2 linked regions of the Homo sapiens genome follow. The protein of the gene in region 2 interacts with the protein of the main gene of each other region in a biochemical or structural test. Each region holds a gene or a part of one and is shown on either strand. Other genes may lie near its edges.

Region 1 (3,971 bases), on a different chromosome or scaffold from region 2:
GGAGGCAGAGGTGGATGGATCACCTGAGCTCAGGAGTTCGAGACCAACCTGGCCAATATGGTGAAATCCCATCTCTACAAAAAAAATACAAAAAATTAGCCAGGCGTGGTGGCAGGCGCCTATAATCCCAGCTATTTGGGAGGCTAAGGCATGAGAATTACTTGAACCCAGGAGGCGGAGGTTGCAGTGAGCCCAGATCATGCCATTGCACCACAGCCTGGGCGACAAGAGCGAAACTCTGTTTCAAAAAAAAAAAAAAGAAATAGCCAGGTAAGGTAGCGTATCTGTAGTCCTGGCTACTCTGGAGGCTGAGGTGAGAAGATCGCTTCAGCCTAGGAGCTCGAGGCTGCAGTGAGTTCTCATCGTGCCACTACATTCCAGCCCAGGCAACAGAGCAAGACTCTATCTCAAAAAAAAAACAGAAAACAATGAAACACTACTACCTATTGGAATGGGTAAAATCCAAAACAATGATAACATGACATGCTGGAAAAGATGTGAAGCAACAGGAACCCCCACATCCATTGCTGGTGGGAATGCAAAATGGTACAGCCACTTTGGAAGAAAGTTGAACAGTTTCTTACAAAATGAAATACATTCTTACCATACACTCCAGCCATCATGCTCCTTGGTATTCACCCAAATCAGCTGAAAACTTATGTCCACCCGAAAACCTACACATGAGCACTTGAATAGACATTTTTTCAAAGAAGATATACAAATGGTCAATAAGTACATGAAAAAATGCTCAACATCACTAACTGCTAGAGAAATGCAAATCAAAACTAACATGATACCACCTAATACCCATTAGGATGGCTACTATTAAAAACAACAACGGTTGTGTTAAAAAGGATGTAGAGAAACTGAACTGCTGTGCGCTGCTGGTGGAAACGTGAAGTGATACAGGCGCTGTGGAAAGCAATACGGTAGTTCCTCAAAAAATGAAACACAGAATTATCATATGACCCAGCAATTCCATTCTGGGTATGTACCCGAAATAACTGAAAACAAGGTCTCAAAGAGGTATTTGTACACCCATGTTCGTAGTAGCATTAATCTCAGTACCTAAATTACGGAAGCAATCCAAGTGTCTACTGATGAATAAATGGACAAGCAGAATAAGGTAAATACACACATGGGAATACTATTCACCCAAAAAAAAAAGAAAAGAACTTCTGACATGCTACAACACAGATGAAGCTTGAGGATAAGTGAAATAAGTCACAAAAACACAAAATATGATTCCACTTACATAAGGTACATAAGAGTAGCCAAAATCATGCAGACAGAAAGGAGAATGAGGAGTTATGGTTCAATGGGTATAGAATTTCAGTTTTGCAGGATGGAAAGTTTCGGAGATGGATGGTGGTGATAATTGCACACTATAAATGTATTTAGTACCACTGAACTGTATACTTCAAAATGGTTAAGATGGTAAGTTCTGTTACATGTATTTTACACCACAATAAAAAACTCCACACATCAATGTTTACAGCAGCTTTATTCATAATCACCAAACCTGGTCCTTCAATAGGTGAATGTACATCCAGACAATGGAATATTATTCAGTGCTAAAATGAAATGAGCTATCAAGCCATGAAAAGACACGGAAGAACCTCAGATGCATACTGCTAAGTGAAAGAAGCCAAGTTGAAAAGGCTACACGCTATATAATTCCAACTACGGGACATTCTGGAAAAGGCATTGCGATGGAGGTAGTAAAAGGATCAGCGGTTGCCAGGGGTTGCAGTAAAAGTGGGAGGAACAGGTGGAGCAGAGAGTTTTAAGGTGCGGAAACCAGTCGGTATGATACTGGTGGAGACATGTTGTTATACATTTGTCAAAACCCACTGAATGTACAATACCATACGAGCAAACCCTAACGTAAACTGTGGGCTTTGGGCAGTGATGATGTGTGAATGCTGGTTCACTGACTGTGCCAAATATACCACAGTGATGCAGGATGTTGATGAGCAGGAGGCTTGGAGAAGAGGGGCATGAGGAGCATGGGGTATATGGGAACTCTGTACCTTAGGCTCAGTTTTGCTGTGAACCTAAAATGCTGCAAAGTCTATTAATTAAAATGAATAAAAATTTCTAAAAATCATTAGAAATAAGAGAGTGACACTCAACCAACACATACTTATTTCATACCTATTTGTTCAAAGCTCTGTAAAACAGAATAGTATATTAAAGAAAACCAAATAAATGAAAAAGAAACTTCAGATGGAAGTGCTATAAAGGAAAATAAACACACTGAAGGGCAGGAAGTTAGATGCGGAGTGGGGGTAGGCAGAGGTGATCATGAAAGATCTCTTTCAAATATGGCCTCAGTGACATTCAGGCAGAAGAAATAAAAATCTAAAGGTCCCAACGTGAGAACAAGCTTCTCAGAAACAATGCTACCTCTTTGTCTTTGGCAGATTAGGAAGATTTTTACATTAATAAGAATTATTAATAACGACTATAGTTCTTACTAGGACTAATAAAGACTAAGTCCTATATTTAGTAAGAACTATTTATAAAAACTGGTAATTCATACAAATAATCTTAGTCATTAAATTTAATCAATAGGTTATGTATAAAACTCTGTATATTACCAACAGAAAATGTTCTAAGTTTTCATAGAACATTTTCCAAAATGGATTATGTTTTAAGTCACAAGAAACACTCAATAAGTTTAAAAGATATTTTAAAAGATTATAGAAGCTGACAACAATGAAAGAAAATATGAGTGAATAGAATTATCCTAAATACCTCCTGAGTCAAAGAGGAAATCAAAACTAGAACCACCAGCTATTTGGAAAATACTGAGCAGAAGAACATTGTCCATGTAAATTAGAATGTGCAGCCAACGCTGCATTCAAAAGCAAATTAAGAACATTAAAGGTTTTTATTATTAAAAGACATTAAAATGAACTAGCTTTGCACAGTGGCGGTATCGTAGCCAATGAGGTCTATCCGAGGAGCGATTACCGCTCATCGAAAACACATTAAAGGAACTAAGAATTCATTAAGAATTAATAACATTAACATTAACTTAATGTTAACATTGTTAACAACAAAAAAAAAAAGCAGGAGAGCAAAATAAAGAGAAAAGTAGAAATCAGGCATTCAGAAAACAAACAAAAAAAAACCAATACAATAAGTAAATCTCAAAGCTGGTTAGTAAAAAAAACCACTAAGTAGACAAACATTTGGCAAATTCAGAAAAATAGTGAAATCACTAATAAAAAAAAGGAAATGAATACCACAGATCTTAATGACAAAAGATTATACACACCTATATAGTAACAGATTTGAAAATCTAAAAGAAATGATCTAGGAAATACGAATTATCAAAAGTGACTCATGAATAAGGATTCCTGAATAGGTTATAGAAGTTAACTACAGAAGTTATCATAAAGGCCTATCCTTTTTTTTTTTTTTTTTAATGAGACAGAGTTTCACTTTTGTTGCCCAGGCTGGAGTGCAATGGCACGATCTCGGCTCACTGCAACCTCCGCCTCCCGGGTTCAAGCGATTCTCCTGCCTCAGCCTCCCGAGTAGCTGGGACTACAGGCACCTGCCACCACACCTGGCTAATTTTCTATTTTTAGTAGACACAGGTTTCTCCATGTTGGTCAGGCTGGTCTCAAACTCCAAACCTCAGCTGATCCACCTGCCTCGGCCTCCCAAAGTGCTGGGATAACAGGCATGAGCCACTGTGCCCGGCCTATTCTTATTAATCTAAATTTATATGAGATTCTCCTCTAACCTTTCAATAAATTCCGTACGCAGGACTAATATGAGTGGGATTTTGGTTATTCACGATATATACCTTGTGATACCTTTGATTAATAGCAAATTTACTATTACATATCCTCAGCAATAGTTAAAAGAAGAAAACCATATCATCATCTAAATGTTACAATAGCATCTCATAAAATTCAGAAGCCATTCCTATTTTTTGTAAAGCAGAAACAGAA
Region 2 (3,079 bases):
CTCCTTCTTTATTTCATTTACTCCACTGCGCATACCCAGGAAGTAGTTCATGTTATCCACCCCATTGTATGGATGAGGAAACTGGGGCACTGAGAACATCACTCTCTTGCCTATCACCAGCCAGCAAATGGCAGAGACTGAGTTCAGACCCAGGCCCTCTTCCCTGGAACAGGCACCTACCCACTGCCCCGCCACCACCCCCAGGATAGCCTGAACACAGCTGCAACATTTGGCCCAAGCCATTTCACTGGTATCTGCTCAGCAGGTCTCACCACACCCTGGCGGTCTGGGCTCTTTCTCCCATTTGGCCAATGTCAAAACCAGCAGTCAGAGAGTAACTAATTTTTCATGTCTCTGTGACGCCAAGCTGGGGCTGTAACCACTAGGTCATCTGGCCCCTCCACCAGGTGACACGTGGGTTTGAGACTCTCTTCCCGCTGTCTCCTGCAATGGGGAGAGAAATCCAGGGTGTTGGTGTTGGGAGCTGGAGGAAGAGTAAGCTCACACTGTCCCCTGCCTTGGAGCAGAAGGTTCTGTTTCCTGGGGATGTCAGGGCTTTGGGGCAAGGTTTTGACCAGGAGCCAGGAGGCTGAACCCTTGTCTGTAGGGTGGGCAATCTTCACTGCAAGAGGACAGCTTCAATGTCCCCTGGCACGGCAGGAAATAGGCATCCTGCCTCCTGCTTGGCACATACAATGTGTGATCCCTGGATGCTGGCTCTGTCCCCCAGCCCTCCCCCTGTCTACCTCCCCCAAGGCACTGCCCCTCCTCTACCCACCCATTCACACCCCAGCTCTGCTCTCCTTCCAGCCCTGGCGCTCTCAGTGGCAGGCATCCCTGGGTTGGATGAGGCCAACACATCTCCCCGCCTCAGCCAGACCTTCCTCCAACTCTCAGATGGTGACAAGAAGACACTCACACGGAAGAAGGTCAATCAGTTCTTCAAGACAATGGTGAGGACATTGAGGGTGGAAGGAAAGGAAGGCATTGGGAGGAGAAAGGGAAGAGAGCAATGCAGAGAGAAGAAAATGGGGGGTTGTGTGTGCATATGTGGTCATTCCTAGGGAGGCATAGTCAGGAGGCCCTGAGTTCTGGGACACTGTGCAGCAATGCCCAGAGGGCAGTTCTCCTCTGGGGCCTCAGGCAGCTCCTCTGACCAGGATTGACCCCAGCTAGGGATGTGCAGGACCCAGGGACCTCAGAAGCAGTAGGTGGCCTACCCTCGCCTAAACTGCCCCTTAGTGCTCCAGCCCTTTTTTATTCAACCTATATCACAAAATCCTACAAATTGAACATTAGTTTCCAAGCGCTGATTCTGCAAGTCCCATCTCCTATTGTTACTTGTTGGCCTTTGCTCAAGATCAAGAAGGTACCATAACACATCTGATCCTCAAGGTAATATGAAATCAGGACTCTGCTACTACAAATATCTCAAGTTTACCATGAGCACACGATGAGTCAGGCACCATGCTAAGCACTTCCCAAGCATGGTGCCATTTGAGCTCCCACTCTTAGGATTTTATATGGGAGGCTCACAGGGTTTGGTAAGTGAGGTGCCCAAGTCCACATGGCTAGTGAGCCTGGGCTCACTCTACTGTCTACCACTGCCTTTCTGGCCAAAGCCAAGGGCATAGCAGCTCACATTCACTGGGCTTTGGGCAGGGGTCAGTGTTGAGGCCCTTGTGATTAGGACTGGGAAGCTCCATTTTGGTGCTTAATCTGATAATCGCATCTTGGTTTTGTGCTTGTTTATTCTCTCAAAAGCTGGCCAGCAAATCGGCTGAAGAAGGCAAACAGATCCCAGACTCGCTGTCCACGGACCTGTGAGCTGCTGCTGACTAGGGCTGCATGGGAGAGCCAGGGAGGGGAGTTTCTGGAAGAGGAAAGCCATGCGTGGAACATCGAAGCCTCAGAGAGTGGGAGACTGTCCCCATCAGTTGTCCTTACTTAGAGGAGACAGAGAGGCCAATCAGGTCCCAGAGCTTGAATGCTAACAAGCCCAGCATCCCCTGGGGCTGTGATCATGGTGGATGAGGAAGCCTCAACGTAGATTCCTGAACTCAAGGTACCAGCAAGAATGCCTTCTCCCAGTGTGCTCTCCCCAACATCCTAGGCACAGCTTTCATAACCCAGTTTCTTAGGTGTAAGAAACTGTTTTTATCTCATTTATTAAGTCTCAGAACTTAACAGAAAAGGAAGCCTTTTAAATATTCTTTTTAATTTTATTTTAGATTAACAGTTTTGTACTTTACATTTTTTTATACAACCAACCAGTTTCTTTTCTAGCCAATCATCTCTGAAGAGTTGCTGTTTCTTACTGACAATAAAAAATGTTCTCTTGGTTCGAATAAGCCTTGTTGCCTGATTCTGTTGGCTGACTCTCCTGGGCCCAGGACTGGGCAGGAAGCTCCCTGGAAGGAAGGCAGGCCCAGGGGCTGCAGTGATGTGAAGGAGCCTGGTGATGCCCTTGCCCAATGCCAAATTTCCCCACCTCATCTATGAGAAGATTCTTCAAGAATCTCCATGACTCTTGTTCCTTAGGTGCCAAACCCTGGGCTACCAGCATGTTAAAAAAGTTGCCCTGGTCTTCCTCACGAATCTGAATAGTGGAGTGTCATACCTCCTTTCTTCACCTTTAGAAAGAGATGGCAAGACCACCCAAGCCAGGTCACTCTAGTAAAGACCAAACATAATGCCAAAGAGTTAGGAAAAGAGGGGTCTGAGGTCCAGTGGACTTATGGTCCAGCTCTTGGATCTTGTCACCGGCTCCCAAGTGGTGGCTTTTCTTGGAGGAATTCTCAGGTTTTTCAGATGAGGCCCAAAGGAGGTGAGTAGCTTTGTCAGGCAGCAGCAAGAGAGGATGGGAGCAAAGTCCCACGTCTGGATCCTACAGAGAGCAGGGAGCTGTGCAGGGGAGGGGTCCAGAAGGAGGCGGAGGACTGCATTTGAGAAGGAAATTAATACTGGGTAAGTGCATGACAACACAGGTTTCAGAACTAGAGCCATCTGGAAACCTTGGGGTGGATGCTCATTTACAGGCTGGGTCCCTGGGGTATAGTAAGAGATGAGAAAGAATGAT

What was found.
Region 1: the proteins of DOCK2 (region 2) and PAK2 form a complex in vitro, tested with the Homo sapiens proteins (one study listed by BioGRID).

Annotation. Positions count from the first base shown.
Region 1 is NC_000003.12:196,746,278-196,750,248, reverse strand, and holds part of PAK2 (serine/threonine-protein kinase PAK 2), read right to left. Parts: intron 1-3,971. UniProt on the Homo sapiens protein: Serine/threonine protein kinase that plays a role in a variety of different signaling pathways including cytoskeleton regulation, cell motility, cell cycle progression, apoptosis or proliferation.
Region 2 is NC_000005.10:170,081,032-170,084,110, forward strand, and holds the end of DOCK2 (dedicator of cytokinesis protein 2), read left to right. Parts: intron 1-810; coding exon 811-953; intron 954-1,764; coding exon 1,765-1,827; 3' UTR 1,828-2,351; downstream 2,352-3,079. UniProt on the Homo sapiens protein: Involved in cytoskeletal rearrangements required for lymphocyte migration in response of chemokines. Activates RAC1 and RAC2, but not CDC42, by functioning as a guanine nucleotide exchange factor (GEF), which exchanges bound GDP for free GTP.